5 linked regions of the Homo sapiens genome follow. The protein of the gene in region 5 purifies or fractionates together with the protein of the main gene of each other region. This does not show direct contact. Each region holds a gene or a part of one and is shown on either strand. Other genes may lie near its edges.

Evidence for each region.
Region 1: the proteins of ANKRD9 (region 5) and ZNHIT6 purify together in Homo sapiens (affinity purification with mass spectrometry; one large-scale study listed by BioGRID and IntAct). This does not show direct contact.
Region 2: the proteins of ANKRD9 (region 5) and SNX14 purify together in Homo sapiens (affinity purification with mass spectrometry; one large-scale study listed by BioGRID and IntAct). This does not show direct contact.
Region 3: the proteins of ANKRD9 (region 5) and SERPINF2 purify together in Homo sapiens (affinity purification with mass spectrometry; one large-scale study listed by BioGRID and IntAct). This does not show direct contact.
Region 4: the proteins of ANKRD9 (region 5) and SNX13 purify together in Homo sapiens (affinity purification with mass spectrometry; one large-scale study listed by BioGRID and IntAct). This does not show direct contact.

The regions. Positions count from the first base shown.
Region 1 is NC_000001.11:85,677,353-85,681,428, forward strand, and holds part of ZNHIT6 (box C/D snoRNA protein 1), read right to left. Parts: intron 3,553-4,076; coding exon 3,484-3,552; intron 2,097-3,483; exon of another isoform or gene 2,021-2,096; intron 1,430-2,020; coding exon 1,349-1,429; intron 1-1,348. UniProt on the Homo sapiens protein: Required for box C/D snoRNAs accumulation involved in snoRNA processing, snoRNA transport to the nucleolus and ribosome biogenesis.
Region 2 is NC_000006.12:85,583,419-85,587,494, forward strand, and holds part of SNX14 (sorting nexin-14), read right to left. Parts: intron 1-4,076. UniProt on the Homo sapiens protein: Plays a role in maintaining normal neuronal excitability and synaptic transmission. May be involved in several stages of intracellular trafficking. Required for autophagosome clearance, possibly by mediating the fusion of lysosomes with autophagosomes.
Region 3 is NC_000017.11:1,745,438-1,749,513, reverse strand, and holds part of SERPINF2 (alpha-2-antiplasmin isoform a precursor), read right to left. Parts: intron 3,807-4,076; coding exon 3,605-3,806; intron 2,496-3,604; coding exon 2,352-2,495; intron 2,206-2,351; coding exon 2,002-2,205; intron 917-2,001; coding exon 774-916; intron 1-773.
Region 4 is NC_000007.14:17,933,498-17,937,573, reverse strand, and holds part of SNX13 (sorting nexin-13), read left to right. Parts: intron 1-4,076. UniProt on the Homo sapiens protein: May be involved in several stages of intracellular trafficking. May play a role in endosome homeostasis. Acts as a GAP for Galphas.
Region 5 is NC_000014.9:102,506,549-102,511,056, forward strand, and holds the start of ANKRD9 (ankyrin repeat domain-containing protein 9), read right to left. Parts: upstream 3,229-4,508; 5' UTR 2,981-3,228; intron 2,305-2,980; exon of another isoform or gene 2,299-2,304; 5' UTR 2,093-2,298; intron 2,002-2,092; 5' UTR 1,927-2,001; intron 1,395-1,926; 5' UTR 1,342-1,394; coding exon 388-1,341; 3' UTR 1-387.

The sequences.
Region 1 (4,076 bases), on a different chromosome or scaffold from region 5:
TAATATATTTCAAGATAGTCTTATGGAGACTAAGCATTTGTACCTAATAATACTTAAAAGTTCATGTATTTAAGCATAGAAAAGGAGATAAAGATGTTTTCTAACCAGAAATCTGAAAAGAAAATAATTTTTTTCCTTTGTTCAATTAAACATCTTAAATTTTAAAACACCTGTTTCAATAAATTAATCTGGCTATATAATTTTACAAAAATGTATCCTATTCAGTGACATTTTGTCTTACTGGCAAATATATGACTAATGATAATAACTAGGTTACCAGTTATAAGGAAAGAAACTCAACTATCATAGCTATTTTAAAGACTGCTTGATATGTGACATGGGTCTGGTTCAGTCTGGGCATGACCTTTTATCAAAAGCAAAAGAATGAGATTCAATTAGAACTGGATTAGACATTTTAGAATCCACCCAGTCTAAATTTTAAATACCAGGTTATTCTGGAACCAAACCAAGCACTCATTCACATCCCAAGCAAGTACCATCTGGTGAAAATAAAGTCAACCGGGTTTCTGCCCAGGAGCACTAATAACTCACACTCTAATAACAATCTCCGTTTTCGAGTAGTGTCTACTATATGCTAGGTCCTGTACTAGGAATTTCATATATGCTATTTCTTTTAAGCTTTGTAACAACCCTATCTAGGAAGTGTTATCATTCTTATTTCACTGATGAGAAAAAATAAGGCCTGGAAATTAAGTAACTTGCTCTTAATCACACAGCTAATAAGGGACAGAAACAGCTATTTTAACCCAGATATCCATGACTGAATCTTTCCACTATGTTATGTTAACCACTTTTGTCCATGCTGTATTTCTGGACAGGAGGCAGAGTGTACTTTACTTAGTTCTAAGAAGACTTGGCTGAAACAGGATTTCCTGTCTTTAAGTTACTTGGAAACTTTTCATTTTCAGAGTTTTTCGTTCAACCTCAAAGGTAGTTTAGTTTAAGGGTTAAGAGTAAAGACTTTGACTCCAGACTGCCTGGGTGTGAATCCTAGCTTCCCTGTTTACTAGCTATAGGATATTACTTAACCACTTCAAGGCTCAGTTTCTCCATCTGTAAAATGGGTATAATAATAATCTACTTTTCAGAGTTATTGTGAGGATTAAATGAATTAACACATTTATTACTGTCTGCTTTGAAGAGTGTCTGGAACATAGGAAACAATGAATGTCAGCTATTTCTACAGACAGACCTTCAGTAAACACCAAGAAAATGTGATAGAAAGTAAATTGTACTACACATCACATTCTAATAGTCATGGATGACCCTAATAAGTACATCAACATTTTTAATTATTTCAGAAAGTTACAATATTTTTGAAGCATACCTTTGACGAATTACAGGATCAGACTTTTCAGGATCAATGTAAGGTTTTAGGATTTCATTAATAGTTTTATCATCTGGTACTCTTTACAACAAAGAAAAAAAAACAAGCTATATTAGTATTTATAATTTTCTACTAAAGGTGTTAATTTTGAATTATTAAATATTGTGGCTTTTTTGGTTTAAATAACTGAACAAAGACCTTTTATATTACTCTTGGCAAAATAAAATATCATTTTAAGCAAAAATTACTTAGGAAAAAGCTCAAAAAGAGTTCTTGGACACACTTAAGGTCTTAAAAAACAACATTTTGAGAAGTTCTGTATAAATCAATTATAAAAATATGAAGCCTCTTAACACACACCTGTACTCAAACATGAAAAGACGAGGTCAGGATAAAATATATTTGAAACTAGCAGAAATAATAAATCTGAAAAAAGGTTTCAGATTTCAGTGCATGTTCAAATTTACTCATTCTAATTTATAAGACCAAGTTAAAAAATTGATAGTAATTTCCTTGGAAACAAAACATTTTAAGTTTTCCAACTTTCTTCCATATATGCACGCTGTTTTAAACTTATCTATAAAGCTGTATAAACAAAATTAAGACACTGTTTTAAAACAGTAACTTTCCTCAACCATTTATACATATTCATATATACTATTGGCTACATACCCCTAGATGTAAAATAAGTCTTTTCCTTGTATGCAACTCCAAATAACAAAGTTCTTCACTAAAATCCCTTTGACAACTACAAAGAGAGGATATTTATGTATAATATAGGAATATGCTAAATATACTACTTAAAGAGCAACTTTAAAATTTTCCTAAATCAAGGAATGAAATAGTTCACAAACATTAAAATGTTTTTTTTTTTTTTTTTTAATTTTTTTGTTGTTGTTGTTGAGACAGAGTCTTGCTCTGTCGCCCAGGCTGGAGTGCAGTGGCATGATCTTGGCTCACTGCAACCTCCGCCTCCTGCATTTAAGCTATTCTCATGCCTCAGCTTCCCAAGTAGCTGTGATTACAGGGGTGCGCCACTTCCCCCAGCTAATTTTTGTATTTTTAGTAGAGACGGGGTTTCACCATGTTGGCCAAGCTGGTCTCTAACTCCTGGCCAAAGGCAATCCATCCGCCTCGACCTCCCAAAGTGCTGGGATTATAGGTGTGAGCCGCTGCATCTGGCCAACATTAAAATGTTTAAATGACACTTGAAAATGTTTATAGGCTGGATGCGGTGGCTCACACTTGTAATTCCGACATTTTGGGAGGCAGAGAGGGGAGGATTGCTTGAGGCCAGGAGTTTGAGACCTGCCTGGGCAACATAGTGAGGCCTTGCCTCTACAAAACTAAACAAGATTAGCTGGGCGTGATGGCCTGAGCCTTTAGTCCCACCTACTTGGAGGCTGAGGTAGGAGGATCACCTGAGCCCAGGAGGTTGAAGCTGCAGTGAGCGGAGGTCCGCACCACTGCACTCCAGCGTGGGCAACAGAGCAAGATCCTGCCCCCACTCCCCTCCAAAAATAAAGAAAAAGAAAAGAACAAGTTTTAATATGAAACAGTAACACAAAAACTTTATGCAAATTAATTCCAATGAGTACACATATATACTTCTAAAATAATGTATTTTCTGAGTGATACACTATAATGTTAATAGTAGTAATCTTTGCATGGTAGAATTTTGGGTCATTTTTCACTTCCTTAACAACCACCCAGCTGAAGAAATAGGAAACTTTCAGCCGTCTAATTCTCCTCGGATCCCTCTCCTCAATACTTGCTTTGCTGCTAAAGAAACCATCATCAGGATTTCTATGTTAATAATTTCCCTTAGAGTTAGTTCTATCACCTTTGTAGGTATTCCCAAAAGTACACTATTTAGTTTTCTGGCTTTTTTCCCCCATATTTACAATCATGTTCTCTACATTCTTCCTTAACTTGCTTTTCTTATATTATTTCTGAGATTCATCCATGTTGATGTGCATAGCTGTAGTTCATTTTTAGTGATGTTTAGCATTTCATTGTATAAATACACCACAATTTAGTTATCCATTCTACTACTGACATTAAGTTAACAGTTTATTTTAAATACACAGCCTTCAAATTAAAACAAATCAGTGATTGAAAGATAGCAGTGATACCTTTTTTCTATGTACTCAGCTTGACTTTGAGGAAACTGGAGCTTCACATGCCAACAAAACTGTTGTTTTCTAAGAGAGAAAATAATCATGTGAGAATCAAGGTAGATAATAAAAGTCTGGATGCAAATTGAACTTTCTAAATTTTCACTTTAAGATAATTCCAAAATTATTCTTAGACTTTAACATATATTTTCTATTAAGAGCTAATTTCTCTTGCAAGGGTTATTAAGAAAGAAAAAAAAGGGAAGCAGTTCTAAATTCCAAGGACTTCACATTTCTGAATCAGAAAGCAATTTCTCATAGTTCAGGGGCTTTTGGGAGCAGTGTGCTACTATTTGAAGTTTACAAATAAATTTCCTCATGACTAAATACAATGAGCTGATGTCTTTGCTTGACTAGTCTGGAAATTAGGTGAATGAAGTATTGTCCGGTTGAGTCCAGCTGGCTGGAGATACACTTCTGAGGCATGAGTACGTGCATTCAGTAGCAAAACAGGAGACAACAAGCTGGTTGCTAAGCAGAATGCACTTTGAGCTACAGTCTTTTTGCTTTCAGGTCTAAACTTTGGTTTGACATAGCATCAACAGCAATAA
Region 2 (4,076 bases), on a different chromosome or scaffold from region 5:
AAGAAATAAAGCGTATTCAAATAGGAAGAGAGGAAGTCAAACTGTCTCTGTTTGCAGATGACATGATTGTATATTTAGAAAACCCCATCATCTCAGCCCAAAATCAACTTAAGCTGATAAGCAACTTCAGCAAAGTCTCAGGATACAAAATCAATGGCAAAAATCACAAGCATTACTATACACCAATAACAGACTAACAGTCAAATCATGAGTGAACTCCCATTCACAACTGCTACAAAGAGAATAAAATACCTAGGAATACAATTTACAAGGGATGTGAAGTACCTCTTCAAAGAGAACTACAAACCACTGCTCAAGGAAATACGAGAGGACACAAACAAATGCAAAAACATTCCATGCTCATGGATAGGAAGAATCAATATCGTGAAAATGGCCATACTGCCCAAAGTAATTTATAGATTCAGTCCTATCCCCATCAAGCTACCATTGACTTTCTTAACAGAATTAGAAAAAAAAATACTTTAAATTTCATATGGAAACAAAAAAGAGCCTATATAGCCAGACAATCCTAAGCTAAAAGAACACAGTTGGAGGCATCAAACTGCCTGGCTTCAAACTATACTACAAGGCTACAGTAACCAAAACAGCAAGGTACTGGTACCAAAACAGATATATAGACCAATGGAACAGAACAGAAGCCTCAGAAATAACACCACACATCTACAACCATCTGATCTTTGACAAACCTGACAAAAACAAGCAATGAAGAAAGGATTCCCTATTTAATAAATGGTGTTGGGAAAACTGGCTAGCCATATGCAGAAAACTGAAACTGGACCCCCTCCTTACACCTTATACAAAAATCAAATAAAGATGGATTAAACACTTAAACGTAAGACCCAAAACCATAAAAACCCTAGAATAAAACCTAGGCAATACCATTTAGGACACAGGCATGGGCAAAGACTTCACGACTAAAACACCAAAAGCAATGGCAACAAAGCCAAAATTGACAAATGGGATCTAGTTAAACTAAAGAGCTTCTGCACAGCAAAAGAAACTATCATCAGAGTGAACAGGCAACCTACAGCATGGGAGAAAATTTCTGCAATCTATCCATCTGAGAAAGGGCTAATATCCAGAATCTACAAGGAAGTTAAACAAATTTACAAGAAAAAAACAAACAACCCCATCAAAAAGTGGGCGAAGGATACAAACAGATCCTTCTCAAAAGAAGACATTTATGCAGCCAACAAACATATGAAAAAAAGCTCATCATCACGGGTCATTAGAGAAATGCAAATCAAAACCACAATGAGATACCATTTCATGCTAGTTAGAATGGTGATCATTAAAAAGTCAGGAAACAACAGGTGCTGGAGAGGATGTGGAGAAACAGGAACACTTTTACACTGTTGGTGGGAGTGTAAATTAGTTCCACCATTGTGGAAGACAGTGTGGTGATTCCTTAAGGATCTAGAACCAGAAATACCATTTGACCCAGCAATCCCATTACTGGGTATATACCCAAAGAATTATAAATCATTCTGCTATAAAGACACATGCACACGTTTGTGTATTGCAGCACTATACACAATAGCAGAGACTTGGAACCAACCGAAATGCCCATCAGTGATAGACTGGAAATACTATCACCATGAAATACTAGGCAGCCATAAAAAAGGATGAGTTCATGTCCTTTTCAGGAACATGGATGAAGCTGGAAACCATCATTTTCAGCAAACTAACACAGGAACAGAAAACCAAACACTGCATGTTCTTACTCATAAGTGGGAGTTGAACAATGAGAACACATAGACACAGGGGAGGGGAATATCACAAACCAGGACCTGCTGGGGAGTGGGGGACTGGGGGAGGGATAGCATTAGGAGAAATACCTAATGTAGATGATGGATTGAGGGTGCAGCAAACCACCATGGCACATGTATACCTATGTAACAAACCCACATGTTCTGCACATGTATCCCAGAACTTAAAGTATAATTAAAAAAAAACAAACAACAACAACAACAAAAACACTGAAAACCAATAAGCTAAGCATTCAGAAACTTGGGGGGAAAAACAATAAATCCAAACACATGAAAAGGAAGGAAATAGTCAAGAGCAGAAATCAACAAAATAGACAACAATGACAAATTAACAAAATATAAGCTAGTTCTTTGAAAAAATTAATAAAACAACCAAACTTCTAACTGGATACTAATGGAGGTTAGTAGGGTACCAATTATTACTCTAAAAATTGATAAAGAGTAAGCATTTATCCTACTTTTCCAATTTGAACTATCTATCAGAATAACTAAATAGACCTAACGGATGGAGTAAAGCAATTCTACAAAAAAGAATCAAACTTAAAAATACAGAAGAAATGAGAGAATTCGAGAATAACCATGTTGTAACCCATAATTAAGTAACTGATTCAAGAAATAAATAAATGGTAAAACCAAAGAGTAAGTTTGTTGGACACAGTATCGGTGGACATTAACTGAACCCATTAAAAGTGAAGCAATCCTATCTTACATATCCACTGATGTGATGCAATGGAATGTACATGGCATCACTAAAGTCTTCTTGCACCACTCCCCGCAACAGGAAAAAAAAAAAAAAAAAACTAAATCTAATTGAGCCTATAGATCAAACACTGTGACTACCAAAAATACAAATGTGAGGATTAAAATACAAGACACTACAAGGAAACCACAACAAAATCCAGAATGTGAACAAATGATCCAGTTTCCTCAACAAGTCAATGGCAAGGAGAAAAAAATGGTGAGGAGGGATCTTCCAGATCAGCAGTTGACAAATGATGGCCTGTGGACAAAAGTATACCTGTTTTTGTATGCCCCTCATACTAAGAAAGGTTTTACATTTTTAAAGGGTTTTTTAGAAAGAAGAATAAGCAACAGAGACTTAGCATGGTATACAAAGCCTAAAATATTTACTACCTAACACTTTACAGAAAAAAATGTGTCAACCCTTATTCTAGATTACAAGACATTTAGAAAAGCTTGAGATGTAGGAACCAAATAGGAGTACAACTTGTTTAGATACCAATTAGAACAACTGCACTATATATTTTTACCCAATAGGGAAAATTTTTATTATGGAGTAGTTATTAGATGATATTAACCAATTATTGTTAATTTTGTAATATTATAGTTTTGTATGGAAGTGATTTTTTTTTTATTTCTATCTTTTATAGAGACATGGTCTTGCACTGTCACCCAGGCTGGAGTGTCGGGGCACAATCATATTTCACTGTAGCCTTGAACTCTTGGCTCCAGGAATCCTCCCACCTCAGCCTCCCGAGTTAGCTAGGACCATAGGCTCGCTACTTTTTTTTCTTTTTTTGGTACAGACAGGGTCTTTCTGGCCAGGTGCATAATTTCAGCAATTTGGGAGGCCGAGGTGGGCAGATCACTTGAGGTCAGGAGTTTGAGACCAGCCTGGCCAACATGGCAAAACCCCATGTTGGGAGTCTCCACTAAAAACACAAAAATTAGCCAGGCATGATGGTGGATGCCTGTAATCCCAGCTACCTGGGAGGATGAGGCACAAGAATTCCTTGAACTGAAGAAGTGGAGATTGCAATGAGCCAAGATCACGCCACTGCACTCCAGCCTAGGTGACAAAGTGAGACTCCATCTCAAAAAAAAGAAAGAGAGAGAGACAGTGTTTTTCTATGTTGCCCAGGTTCATCTCCAACTCCTGGCCTCAAGTGATCCTCCCACCTCCACCTCCCAGAGAGCAAGAATTACAGGCATGGGCCACCTCACCCACTCTATAAGACATTTCTTAAAAAGATAAGGCAAAAAAAAAAATATGGCAAAATATGGATAGTTGTTAAAGTTGAGTAATGGGTGCTTGCAAGTTTTTTACACTCTCTTATGTATGCTTGGAAATTTTCAATATCAAAAGTTAATTAAAAAGACAAACCTCTAGCAAGACAGATCAAGGATACAAATATACAAAACACAGAATGAAAAAAGTAACCATAGCTATACTGAAATAAAAAATAAGACTATGAACAACTATATATTAATACATGGAAAATCTATATAAAATAACTTTTAAAAAATTTTTTTGAGACAGAGTCT
Region 3 (4,076 bases), on a different chromosome or scaffold from region 5:
TGATTCTCCTGCCTCAGCCTCCAGAGTATCTGGGATTACAGGCGCCCGCCACCATGGCTGGCTAATTTTTGTATTTTTAGTAGAGACGGGGCTTTGCTATGTTGGTCAGGCTGGTCTCGAACTCCTGACCTCAAAATCACAGCTCACTGCAACCTTTCCCTCCTGGGTTCAAGTGATTCTCCTGCCTCAGCCTCTGGAGTAGCTGGGATTACAGGCACCTGCCACCACGCCTGGCTAATTTTTGTATTTTTAGTAGAAACGGGGTTTCAAATCTTGGCCAGGCTGGTCTCAAACTCCTGACCTTATGATCCACCTGCCTGGGCCACCCAAAGTGCTGGGATTACAGGCGTGAGCCACCGCTCCCGGCCAAAATCACCTTCTTTTTCAGCTTTCCCTCCACAGCGCTTCCCAGCGTCTGGAATTCCTGTGTTGATGTCCATTCACTGTTGCACTGTGTATCCTCCTTCCTAAGAGCAGAGACCTGGCCTCCCTCATGCTCCACAAAAACCCTAGTGCTTAGAACAGTATCTGGAACACAGCAAATGCCCAGTATATTTTCACTGAATTACTAAACCTCAAAGAGCCTGGAGCCTCAGTCCTCCTGCCAGGTAGGATGGGGGATCATGGGACCTTTTGCAGTTGCCTGCCTAGGGGACGTGGAGGCAAGGAAGGCGAGACAGCCTCCACCCATCCCTGTGCCTGCTCCACAGCCTGTCCACTCCCTTCCCCACCTCCCAGCCTCAGGCCCAGCCTGCTGGACAACCAAGGGTGACCTGGATCTCAGGCTGCTCCAGCAAGAACCAGCGCAGCGGGTACGTGCGGGCCTGCATCATTTCCACGGGCACCGTGAACTGCTCGTCCAGGTGGAAGGAGTCTCTCTGGGTAAGGCTCGGGTCAAACTTGTTCCTCCAGAAACCTGAAACCCAGCAGAGGGCAGGGGTCACGTCGACGGGGACCAGCTTGGGGCAGAGGGCAGGGGTCACGTCGATGGGGACCAGCTTGGGCTCTGCACCCCCAGCCCGTTGCCTGTCCCACCCAGAATCCATTCAAGGATGAGACAGCGGTGGAGGCCAAGACCCCAGGGAATGCTAGCTGGCATCCAATTGATCTAAGGTCTCTTTCCCGTAGCATTTTTGAAATCTGGGCTTGTGTTTTCCCCAACCCCTGCAATTCTCCTAGGAACCTCCTCCTGGATCTTTTTTTTTTTTTTTAGACGGAGTCTCGCTCTGTCGCCCAGGCTGGAGTGCAGTGGCACGACCTCCGCTCACTGCAAGCTCCACCGCCTCCCGGGCTCACGCCATTCTCCTGCCTCAGCCTCCCGAGTAGCTGGGACTACAGGTGCCCGCCACTACGCCCAGCTAATTTTTTTGTATTTTTAGCAGAGACGGGGGTTTCACCGTGTTAGCCAGGATGGTCTCCATCTCCTGACCTCATGATCTGCCCGCCTCGGCCTCCCAAAGTGTTGGGATTACAGGCGTGAGCCACCGCGCCCAGCCCCTCCTGGATCTTTTCAGACCATTTGTTCCCAGGGTATTCACTCTAGAACAACTCATCTGGCTCCTGGGCACCCATCCCCACCACACCCAGACAGCCTCCTGCCTCATGGCCCAGACTGAGGAAGAAAGGAGACCCTCAGAACAAAGCCTGCATGGCCGGGCGCGGTGGCTCACGCCTGTAATCCCAGCACTTTGGGAGGCCGAGGTGGGTGGATCACCTGAGGTCAGGAGTTCAAGGCCAGCCTGGCCAACATGGTGAAACCCTGTCTCTACTAAAATACAAAAATTAGCTGGGTGTGGTGGCAGATGCCTGTAATCCCAGCTACTGGGGAGGCTGAGCCAGGAGAATCGCTTCAATCCGGGAGGCGGAGGTTGCAGGGAGCCGAGATCGCGCCACTGCGCTCCACCCTGGGTGACAGAGCGAGACTTGTCTCAAAAAACAAAAAGGCCTGCACGTCCCAGCTCAGCCTACAGGGTGGGGGATCTGAGAGGAGGAGGAGCGCACCCTGGAAGTGGATGGCGTTGAGGAGAAGCAACACGGTGTCTTCCGGCAGCCCAGAGAGGAATTCCTGAATCTTCCCCTCCGTGGCCTCCTTCACCCATTGGTTGATGTTTGCCAGGTCATCTTCCTGCTTTCCCGTCAGGCTCACGGGCTTTGCCCCAAATAGCTGTTCGGATTGTTCCAGGAAATCTTCTTTGATGGGAAATCCTGCACGGAGGCAGCACAAGCTGTTCCCAGGGCTCCAGGCTCCACAGCCAGACACGCCCCTACTCGCTACCAGAGGCCCAGCCCCTTGCTCTCACCCTCCTCCACCCAGGGCAGGACTGAGGGAGCTCCCTGCCATCAGCGCCTACCTTTCTGCAGGTACATCCTGGCAGCCAGTCGGAACGCGCCGGGGCCCAGGTCCTGGCAGAGGCGGCTCAGCAGATGGGGGAGGCAGGGCCCTGAGCCTGCGTGCAGCACCTGTTGCAGCCTCTGCAACGTGTGGTTCTGAGCACCTGGAGGGCACCGCACAGGCTGAGGCCCGGCTGCGGGTCCTTTCTCACCCCCACTGCCCACTCCAGTCCCTCCTGGATACCCGTGACGAGGACGTCCACGGGACCACACGCCATCCTTCCACAGCCACGGATCTGTTCTGCGTGGCTCTCACCCCTGTGGCTGACAGGCTGGGTGACCTCACCCCCCACAAGTTACCTTCCCTCTCTGGGCTTCCGTTTCCCACAGTGAGACCCTCCAGCACAGTGGGAAAGAGTGTAGCTAGCAAACTCTTGCATAAGAATCACCAGGAGGGGCCGGGCGCGGTGGCTCACGCCTGTAATCCCAGCACTTTGGGAGGCTGAGGCAGGTTGATCACCTTAGGTCGAGAGTTCGAGACCACCCTGGCCAACATGGTGAAACCCCGTCTCTACTAAAAATACAAAAATCAGCTGTGCATGGTGGCTGGTGCCTGTGATCCCAGCTATTTGGGAGGCTGAGGCAGGAGAATTGCTTGAACCTGGGAGACAGAGGTTGCAGTGAGCTGAGATCACACCACTGCACTCTAGCCTGGGTGACAGAGCAAGACTCTGTCTCAAAAAAAAAAAAAAAATCACCAGGAGGACTTGTAAATAAGCAGATTCCCCGGCCCAGTCCCTGAGATCTGATTCACATAGACAGATGGGTGGGGGCCCAGGAATCTGCATTTGTTGTTGTTGTTGTTTGAGACGGAATCTTGCTCTGTCACCCAGGCTGGAGTGCAGTGGCGCCATCTCGGCTCACTGTAACCTCCAACTCCCAGGTTCAAACAGTTCTCTGCCTCAGCCTCCTGAGTAGCTGGAATTACAGGTGCGCACCACCACGCACAGCTAAATTTTTTGTATTTTTAGTAGAGAGAGTTTCACCATGTTGGCCAGGCTGGTCTTGAACTCCTGACCTCGTGATCCACCCGCCTCAGCCTCCCAAAGTGTTGGGATTACAGGCGTGAGCCACCGCCCCGGCCTAGGAATCTGCATTTTTACCAAACAGCCACGTGACCCTGGTGGAGGAACCGCCCGCGGAGAACCATTGGAGTACTGAGTTCCTACTGGCCTCCCAGCTCTCTTGGTCTGGACAAGTGGTGCCAGGGTACCTAGTGCCAGGTGAGACAGCGCCAGGGCCACACTCAGGGGTGACAGGATGAGGTTGGGGCAGGTGGACGTTTGAGCCACCAGGGAGAACAGGTCGGCAGTGAAGGCCATCATGGCCCGGGCCAGCCTGTGGGTCTGCTCTGGGGTGGGGTCTCTGCTGCAGACTCCTGGGGGACTCTTCAGGGCAGTCTGGCCACCAGGCTCCTGCAGGGACAGATCAGGGGTCAGGGAGGTCAAGGGGTCAGCTCCAGGTTCTGTGTTGAAGGCCTTGTCACAGCCCCTGTGCCTGAGGACAGCAGGGCCTTGTCCCAGCCCCAGGGAAGAGGGAGCGTCAGACGGAGGGCACTGGCATTCTGGGGCCTGGCGCCCACCTTCGGTCCTCCCCACCCTCTCTCCCTTCTGGCCTCTGGACTCCAGAGCCTCAGCCTCAGCACGCGCCCCCACCCCCCGACCCCTGCCGATGGGCCCTCCTCC
Region 4 (4,076 bases), on a different chromosome or scaffold from region 5:
TATGAAACTTTTCAGTTTTGCGTTTTGTGAAAATATATCTTTTTTTTTTTTTTTTTTTTTGAGACGGAGTCTTGCCCTGTTGCCCAGGCTGGAGTGCAGTGGCGCGATCTTGGCTCACTGCAACCTCCGCCTTCCAGGTTCAAACTATTCTCGTGCTTCAGCCTCCCAAGCAGCTGGGATTACAGGCGTGAGCCACTGCACCGGGCCAAAAATATATCTCTAATTGAAACCTTTTCAGAAATGAGAAGCCACACAAGTGATCAATTAAGGACCATTTTATATTAAGCTAAAATGGAATATCACTCAGTTGAGCAAACTAATATGTACATTGAACTTTGAGCCTATGAAATATAGATTAATGTAAATTGAAAGTATAGCTCCCATATAGTTCTCGATGTAAACTTTTTGGCTTCAATTTATATTATTTTATCTTAAATACAATGGAATTATTTAGAAAACTTGCTAGTCATATTTATGTATGTATTTTTTTTTTTTTTGCATTTTACATACAGGGATGAGCTGTATGTAACGTCTAGCTAGTTTTTTTTTTTTTATTTTATTTTATTTTTTTTAATGTTAGTTTTTTTCCCCTTCTGTTGTCCTTGCTCCTGTTAGGACTTCCTGCTTCTAATGTGACTCCTGCTATACTTGGCAAAAAATTTGTCATAGTGTACATGAAAGTTACTTGTTTAATATTCACTCCTCACTCTCCCTCTATCCCTTCTTTTTTTTTCTTTTTTTTTTTCTTTTCCCCTAACAGTAAACTTCATATATCGAAATTAGAGCATGGGATGTTTGTTTACCTGAGAATTTGTTTTAATTAATCCGAGTTTTCACAACATTAGAAGATAATGAAATATTTATCAGTGAATTTTTATCAAACACACTTTTAAACTTTTCTTGATACCAGGAGCAATTAGGATTATAATTCTGAGCATTTATTATTACAGAAAACTAAAGGTAAGAAATGTGGGAAAATGTGCTGAATACATTCCAGTGTTGTGGCATACTTTGGAGGTTGTTTTTGCATGGAAACCAGTTATCAACGTGTTGTCACTTGTCCTGTGTTTTAAAAAATAATAAACAGTGTAGCTATTTAAAGCTATTAGTTGTTTGAGTTGTCTGTAAATATGAATCATTAAGTGACTATTAAATAAAAATAGTTTCTATTTGTGTTGTTACTTCCATCCAGATTTGTTGCTTTTTCAATATTAACACTGATTCTCAGAGTTAACAGATCTGATATAAATGGGAAAAGGCAAAAAATGCAGCACTTTGAGAAGTTCCAGGTTAATAGTTGTTAAGTAAAAGGTTTTGTAGTTGAAATAAATTTGGAGGATATTTGCCTAAAGAAAGTTAATAGGTTTCTTCTCTGGATGACTTAACATAGTTAGTTTTTGATAGGTGATTTATTTTCAAAGAAGATGATAGAATTTACAGCATATTGCAGAGTCATTTAACCATGGAGGTGAATACACTTTCTTGTATTTCACTTAGGGAAATCCTGGAGTGATGAGTTACGTATCAAGAAAGGCTCCCTGAACATCCAGGGGTCCTTTTGAACACACACATGCACATACATCATACATCCACGCTCACACACAGTTGTCTTGCCCATAAGTGCTTAGTAAAATATTATGACTTGGTTTTGTTGATTAATATATTTGTAATAGAAATACTCTTGGGGCACATTAATCTTTAAGCTATATAAGCTATTTCTTCAATTATTAATGACACTGCAAGAGCTACTAACCAAAGCAAGAAGACCATAGGTCCACTGGCATTCAGAGGTGTCAAGAGGTAGGAAAGGGATTTTATAACGGGAGTGGAAGGACATCAGTATCTAAAATGAGTTTGGCTTGCCACTCTACACACAGCCTTACTTGGCATCTTTTGACAAACCAAGAGGAATATTGATAAACATTCTTAAAGAATTTTTTCTTTTTAAATATTATTTTAATTGACAGTCATTTTTATGCATTTATGGGGTACAGGGTGATATTTTGAAATGTGTGTACAATGTGGAATGATTAAGTGCAGCTGAATAACATATCACCTTGATTATTTTCTATGGTGAGACAATTGAAATTTAGTTATTTAAAAAATAAAATACATGATTGTTGACAGTTGTTTAATTGATCTAAAAATTTCTTCCTTCTATCTATCTGAAACTTTGTACTCTGAGCAGTATATCCCCATTGCTCCCTCTTCTCCAGGCTCTGGTATCTGTCATTCTGCTGTCTACTTCTGTGAGTTTGACTTCTTAAATTTCACATATAAGTGAGATCGTGTGGTATTTGTCTTCCCATGCTTGGCTTTTTTCAGTTAGCATGATGTTCTCCATGTTCGTTCATGTTGTAGCAAGTGACAGAATTTCCTTCTCTTTTAAGCCCAATTAGTATTCCATTGTATCTACCACCTTTTCTTCATCTGTTTATCCATTGATGGACACTTAGGTTGATTCTTTGTCTTGGATTTTGTGACTAATGCTGCTGTGAACCTGGGAGTGCAGATATCCTTTCAACATATTGAGTTCCGTTTTTTGGAAATATACCCAGGAGTGAGATTGTATGGTAGTTTTATTTTTAGGTTTTTGAGGAACTTACATACCATTTTTCATAATGTTTGTATTAATTTGCATTTCTACCTACAGTGTACAAGAATTCCCTTTTCTTCACATTCATGGCATCACTTACTCTCATTTTTTTGATTATAGCCATTCTAACAGGTGTGAGGTGATATCTCATTGTGGTTTTAATTTGCATTTTCCTAATGGTTAGTGATGCTGAGCAGTTTTTCATGTATTTGTTGGCCAGATTTATGTCTTCCTTTGAGACATGTCTATTCAAGCCCTTTGCCCATTTTAAAAATGGTTATTTTCTTGAAATTGTGTTGAGTTCCTTTTATATTTAGTCTGTTAACCACTTATCACATGTATGGTTTACACTTTCTCCCAAGTTGTGGAGTGGAAAAGTGTATCCCAGCTCTGGTAGATATACCTCTTTCTGTTTTTGTTATCTCTGGGCCCCCAGCAGATTGGGTGGTGCCTGCCCACATGGAAGGCAGACCTCCAGGTAGTCTACTCAGACTCACATGCTAATCTCAGTCTCCTCTGGAAACATCCTCACAGACACATCCAAAGGAATGCTTTACCAGGTTTTTAGGTATTCCTTAATATAGTCAAGTTGACATCTAAAATTATCCACCACAATGACTTTACAGCTTTCCCTGAATGAGGTTCTCAGATTATGGCTTTTTAAACTGTGCTTTGAAATTTTGTGGTTTCATAGACCATGAAGTGCCTCCTCAATTGATTGTAATCTGGAATTGACTTTCTATTTCAGAGTCAGGTTTAATTTTGGTGTCACAAAGCCTTAAATATGTGTAAGGAGAGGAAACGTTGAAGCAAGCAGATAGCTCTTAAACTGTTTAACGTTTTAAAAGTATTTGGAATTAAATGAATAAATAGGCTGGAGTGATAGTGATAAATACTGTGTCTATCAACAAATTATACATATGGCAACACACAAACCTGTATGTTAAGCACTATAAGGGATGAGTCTCAACTTTATCACTTATTTATGATGGGATTTTGGGGAACTAGTTTGAACTTTCTAAGCTTTTAATTTCCTTCTGTGTAAAATTGGGGTAATAGCACCTTTCTTGCTGTTCTTACATTGTTATGAAGATCATATAAGATGATGGAGGGTATAACTTTGTAAATTGCCAGTCATTATAGAAATAGTGGTAGTACATCGGGTTTTTTTTTTTTTCTGTATATTCCTTGTACTAATGAATGTAAATCCTAGGCTCCATGTAGTTTTATTGCTCACTATTTTCTTGGTGGATAGGTGGGTGGGTCCTGAGGGGAAATTAGGAGGGGAGTCTCCTGGCTAGTGGTGCAGTTACAGGGGAGACAGGGAATAGACTAAAAGAAGTGAAAGAGAAAAAAGGGGATAGTTTCTTGTGTGGTTGGTAAACCGATTTCAATGAATGCCTTAAAGCAAGTTCTCTCTTTTTTTTTTTTTTCTGAGACAGAGTCTCGCTCTGTTGCCCAGGCTGGAGTGCAGTGGCGC
Region 5 (4,508 bases):
TGCAGAGCTCGTTCTCTTGGCTTCCAGGCCTTTTTATACGCTGTCCTGCTGCTTGGACATGCCAGTCCCCACCCCTGCACCTACCGAGCTCCTGCGGCACTCAGCTGTCACCCATCTGGGACGCACACCTGTCCGAGGCTCTAGATCAAGGTGGGAGGTTAGTCCTCACTCCCTTCAGGGGCTGGACAGCGAGCTGAAGGCCCGAGCCCAGCTGCACCCAGAAAACCTGCCACTTGGAACTCACCTGACCATCCAAGCCCAGCCCCCAGTGCATGCGACAGATGAGGCAGAGATTGTGCCGTACAGAGATCAATATATATAAAGTGCCGGTACAACGCTCTGAAAAATAGTTTTGTCCCAAAATCCAGCGCCTAGGGTGCTCCGGGCCTAGCCTTTGCCAGTGAGGTCCAACGGCTGCAGGAATGGGGGCAGCGGCAGCTCGTCCAGGGCCTCGGGGAAGCGGCCTGGAGAGATGGCGGTGACCAGCACCTGCATGGCGCGCGCGAAGAGCGAGGGCGGCGCCAGGCCCGCCAGCCACTGGAACTTGTCCTCACCCAGCAGCCGCTGCCAGCGCGGCCGGTCGCCCAGCAGCTCCTGGCGGGCCGAGCCGGCGGCACCCACGGGGGTGTACAGCGCCAGGAGGTCCAGCAGCAGCAGGCGGCGCTGGCGCGGCTCCCCGGGAGCTGAGGCGGGGGCTCCGGCGGCGGAGGGAGTGGCCCCGGCGTCGCGGCCCAGCTGGCGCAGCAGCAGCTCGAGAGGCGTGAGGCCGCCGCCGTCCCGCAGACCGGGCGAGGCGCCGTGGCCCAGCAGCAGGAAGAGGCACTCGGGGCGCGCCAGCTCACAGGCCACGTGCAGCGACGTGCCACCGCCCTCCACGCGGCTGCAGCCACGCCGGTCCAGCACGCGCGCCCGCTCCTCGGCCGGGAAGTCGCGCAAGGTGCGCAGGATGCGGCGCAGAATGCCCACGCGGTTGTAGCGCACTGCCAGCGCCACGTGCGGCCCGGGAGCCGCGCAGCAGCGGAAGCCGGCACTGGGCGGTGCGAGCGCGCGCCGCGGGAACGTGGCCAGCAGGTAATGCGCGTACGCTTGGTGGTCGTGCACGAGCGCGTAGAGCAGCGCCTCAGAGGGCGAGTAGGCGGCGGCGCGCCCGCGCTCGTCCCAGTGGAAGGCCTCGCTGGCGCGCATATCCTCCAGCAGCCACACGGGTAGCAGGTCGCGCACCGCCTGGTAGAAGGCGAACGACGACTTGCGGCACTGCTTCTGCGCTCGCGAGCGCGCCGCGCCCGAGGCCTCGGGCCCGCCGTCCGCGCCACCCCCAGGCCGCCGCGCGTCCCACGGCATGCTGGCGGCGGGGCGTTCCTGGGCCTCAAGGCATGGATCCCGCGAAGGCACACCTGCGGGGAAAGGAAGAGGCCACGGTGAGGCGCGGGGAAACTGGGGAGGCCCGGGGACTCCCCTCTGCCCCTCACACAGCCCCTCCGGTCCTGGCCCACCAGGCCTGTACCTACCTCCAGCCTCGGCCAGGCCCTTCCAGTCACCCTACAGCTCCATCTCTCCGACGCCCAGAACCACCGCCTCCATCCTTGATCTAGCTGTACCTGTTCTCCCTCCTTGAAACTGACTTGCTCTCTGGCACCTCTGCTGGAAATGCCCTTGCTGCCCATGCCCTCAAATCTCCCCTCCCCTCTCCAACCCAGGGACCCACTGGAAGAGCTTCTGTTCCCACCTAAGCCAGGTTCATACGACCCCAAATAAAGAAAAGGCCAGGGAGGGGATGAGAAAGCTTGGGCCCACATCTCAAGCTGAGGCAAATCCACTCTCCAGCCCAAGCGCAACCCTGACCCTGATCTCCGACCCCAGACCACTTGGAGGCCCCTGGAGCCTCTTCCTGGGCTGTTCAGAGGCATGATCCAGACTCAGACCTACCTGGTTCCTGCACCGCGATCACCTAGTTCCGGGGATGTGGGTATATCACAGTCCCTGGCCGAGCCTCAGCTTTATCTGTAAGAAAGGGGAGGGGTGGACGACGGCTGTGCGGGCGGGGTGAGCCTGGGGCGTGGCACCAGCCCTCTATCCAAACATGTTTGCTTACACGTTAGCTCCTGGGAGGAGATAGGAGGGTGAAAACAACCTGGAGACCGGTGTGCACCGCACTGCACAGTCTGCCATCCTCTTCAGGTCCCATACCTCTCTTGATCTCCCCGACTACTAGATGAAGCGGGTACTGCCATCCCACTTTCCAGCAGGGCACAAGCTTCTCCAATTCTCCAAGGTCAGCAAGCCACGGCAGAGCCAGGCCTAGAACTCAGGTCCCCTGCGTCTCAGTTTGGGCTCATTCCAGAATTGGTGGGGACCCCCAACCCACAGGCAATCGAGCTTAGGCCCTGACCCTGCCCTCTGAGTCCCCAGCCCCGACCTGAGCCTAGGCGTCTGACCTCTGGCTCCGTCCCAACCTCCCTACTGCCTTCTTTCAAGGGTAAGCCCTTGGTCACAAGGGGCCTGGGACAGAAGGCAGGCCGCGTCCACACACACTGACTGGGTCACTATCACTGGCAGTAACTGAGTTAAAGAGAGCGGCGCGGTGCGGGTAGGCTGTGGCCCGTGGGCAACACCGTGACTGGAGCCCCTTCCCCAAGCCTGGGCCTCCGGGCCCCAGATATGCCCTGTGCCGGCACGCGTGGGGCGCCGGGCGGGTTACGTAAAGTTCGGCCTCCCCACGTCACCGGGCAGAGTCACGGCCGCGGCTCGTGAATAAGGGGGTTGGGCCATCGAAGGCAGCGCCGCGCCCGGGGCCACCCGCCACCTCCTACCCGTCCCCTCCCGGCCTGCACGGCCAGACGTCGGGCGGCGGAGGGTCGCGGGGCCGAGCGGGGCGTCCGCGCGCAGGTGGCCGGCGCAGCGAGGGCTGCACCTGCGTGCGCGTGTGCCGGAGGAGGAGGGGGCGGCGGCCGCGGGCGCGGCGCGGGGGACGGGGACTCACCATGGGGGGCGCGGGGGCCACAGGCCGGGCGTCCCCGCCCCTGCCGCGGACCGGAGCGCGCGCTGTCCCCCGCGGGCGAGCGGGCAAAGGTCCCACGACGGACGCACGGGAGGGAGCCACCGCCGCCCGCGCCCGCCGCAGCCGCGCTCTGAGCCGCCGCGGCCGGATCGCAGGGCGGCGGTGCCGTCGCCGGCGGCGGGCGGCGGGCGGCGGGCGGCGGGCGGCGCAGTGCGGCCCCGGCCAGGCAGGACAGCGGGACCGTCCGCCGCCGCCATTGGCCCGCGCCGCCGGCCCCCGCCACCACCCATTGGCCGCCGCGCTGCACCATTGTTACGTCACTGGCCGGCGGGCGGGGCGCACCGCTGGACCCGCGGAAAACTTCGGAGAAACTTGAGGGAGCGCCGGCGGGGAGAACGGAGAGGAGGGGCGGGGCCGTGGCGAAAGGGGCGGGGCGTTGATGGGCGGGGGCGGGGCTCCCGGAACCCGAGCTGCGGGCGAAGAAAGGCTCCGAGCTCCGAGCTGCCCTAGCCCGGGAGGGCGCCGCTGCTCTGCGAACTCGGGCGCGCGCGTAGGTGGCCCGCCCTCCGCCGTGCGTGACTTTCCTCGTCGCGTCCAGCTCCCCTTTTCTTTGACCTTACGTGACCTTGGGAAAAACCTCCAGGCTGCTACCCCATCTGCACATGGGAGGGCCGGGGGTAGGAGCCGCGACCCCTAAGGGCTCCACCGCCTTCTGCCCGGCCAGGGTCGTGCCTGGCGCGCCCCCGCTCCAGCTGACCCGCGCAAGGGAGGGAGGGGCGGACGGATGGGGACAGCTGTTTAGGAGCGCGCACTGCGCCCATCTCGGCCTCAACACTCATGTTTCCACTTCGTTTCACGACCACCAGCCACAGTGGACACGATGATCCCCAGTTCACCCGCCAGCAAATCAGGGCTCAGAGAGGTGGCCTCAAAGAGAGGAGCGGCCAGGAGGGAAGCCGGGGGTTTGCCCTGCGGTTCTTCCCACATCTGGGCGGGATAGATTCGATTGGGCCTCGGCCACCCCCACCGTCTCCGTCGGGGGTTCCAAGGTTTGGGGTCATGACCTAGGGGGCTTAGGAGCCTGGGTCCATCTCAACTAATTTATGGCCTCACTCGCCCCCAGCGGCTGGGAATTCTAGGCCCATTTTACAGATGTGGACGCAGATCTGGAGAGGGGCAATGACTGCTCAACCCCCCACCCATCCTCCCAGACACGACCTTCCACCTGGAATCCCCCCACACACGTTCTCAGAGGCCAGGCAGCCGGGGTCTCATGGTGAAATCCCCACATTCCATGCAGGGGCTCTTTCTGGTTCCTTCCCTAGAATGCTGTCCCTGCCCTTCCAGTACTATCTCACCAGGGAGACCCTCCCACTCCCCCACTCCGCTCCAACCAAGCAAGGCCTCTGCCTCGCCCCGGTGGGAGGGGCCTCGTCCAGAGGGCACGCCCCTGCACACACAATCAGCCCTGTCCTGGCTTCTCTGTGTGCCCCAGCCAGTCAGTCTGGGT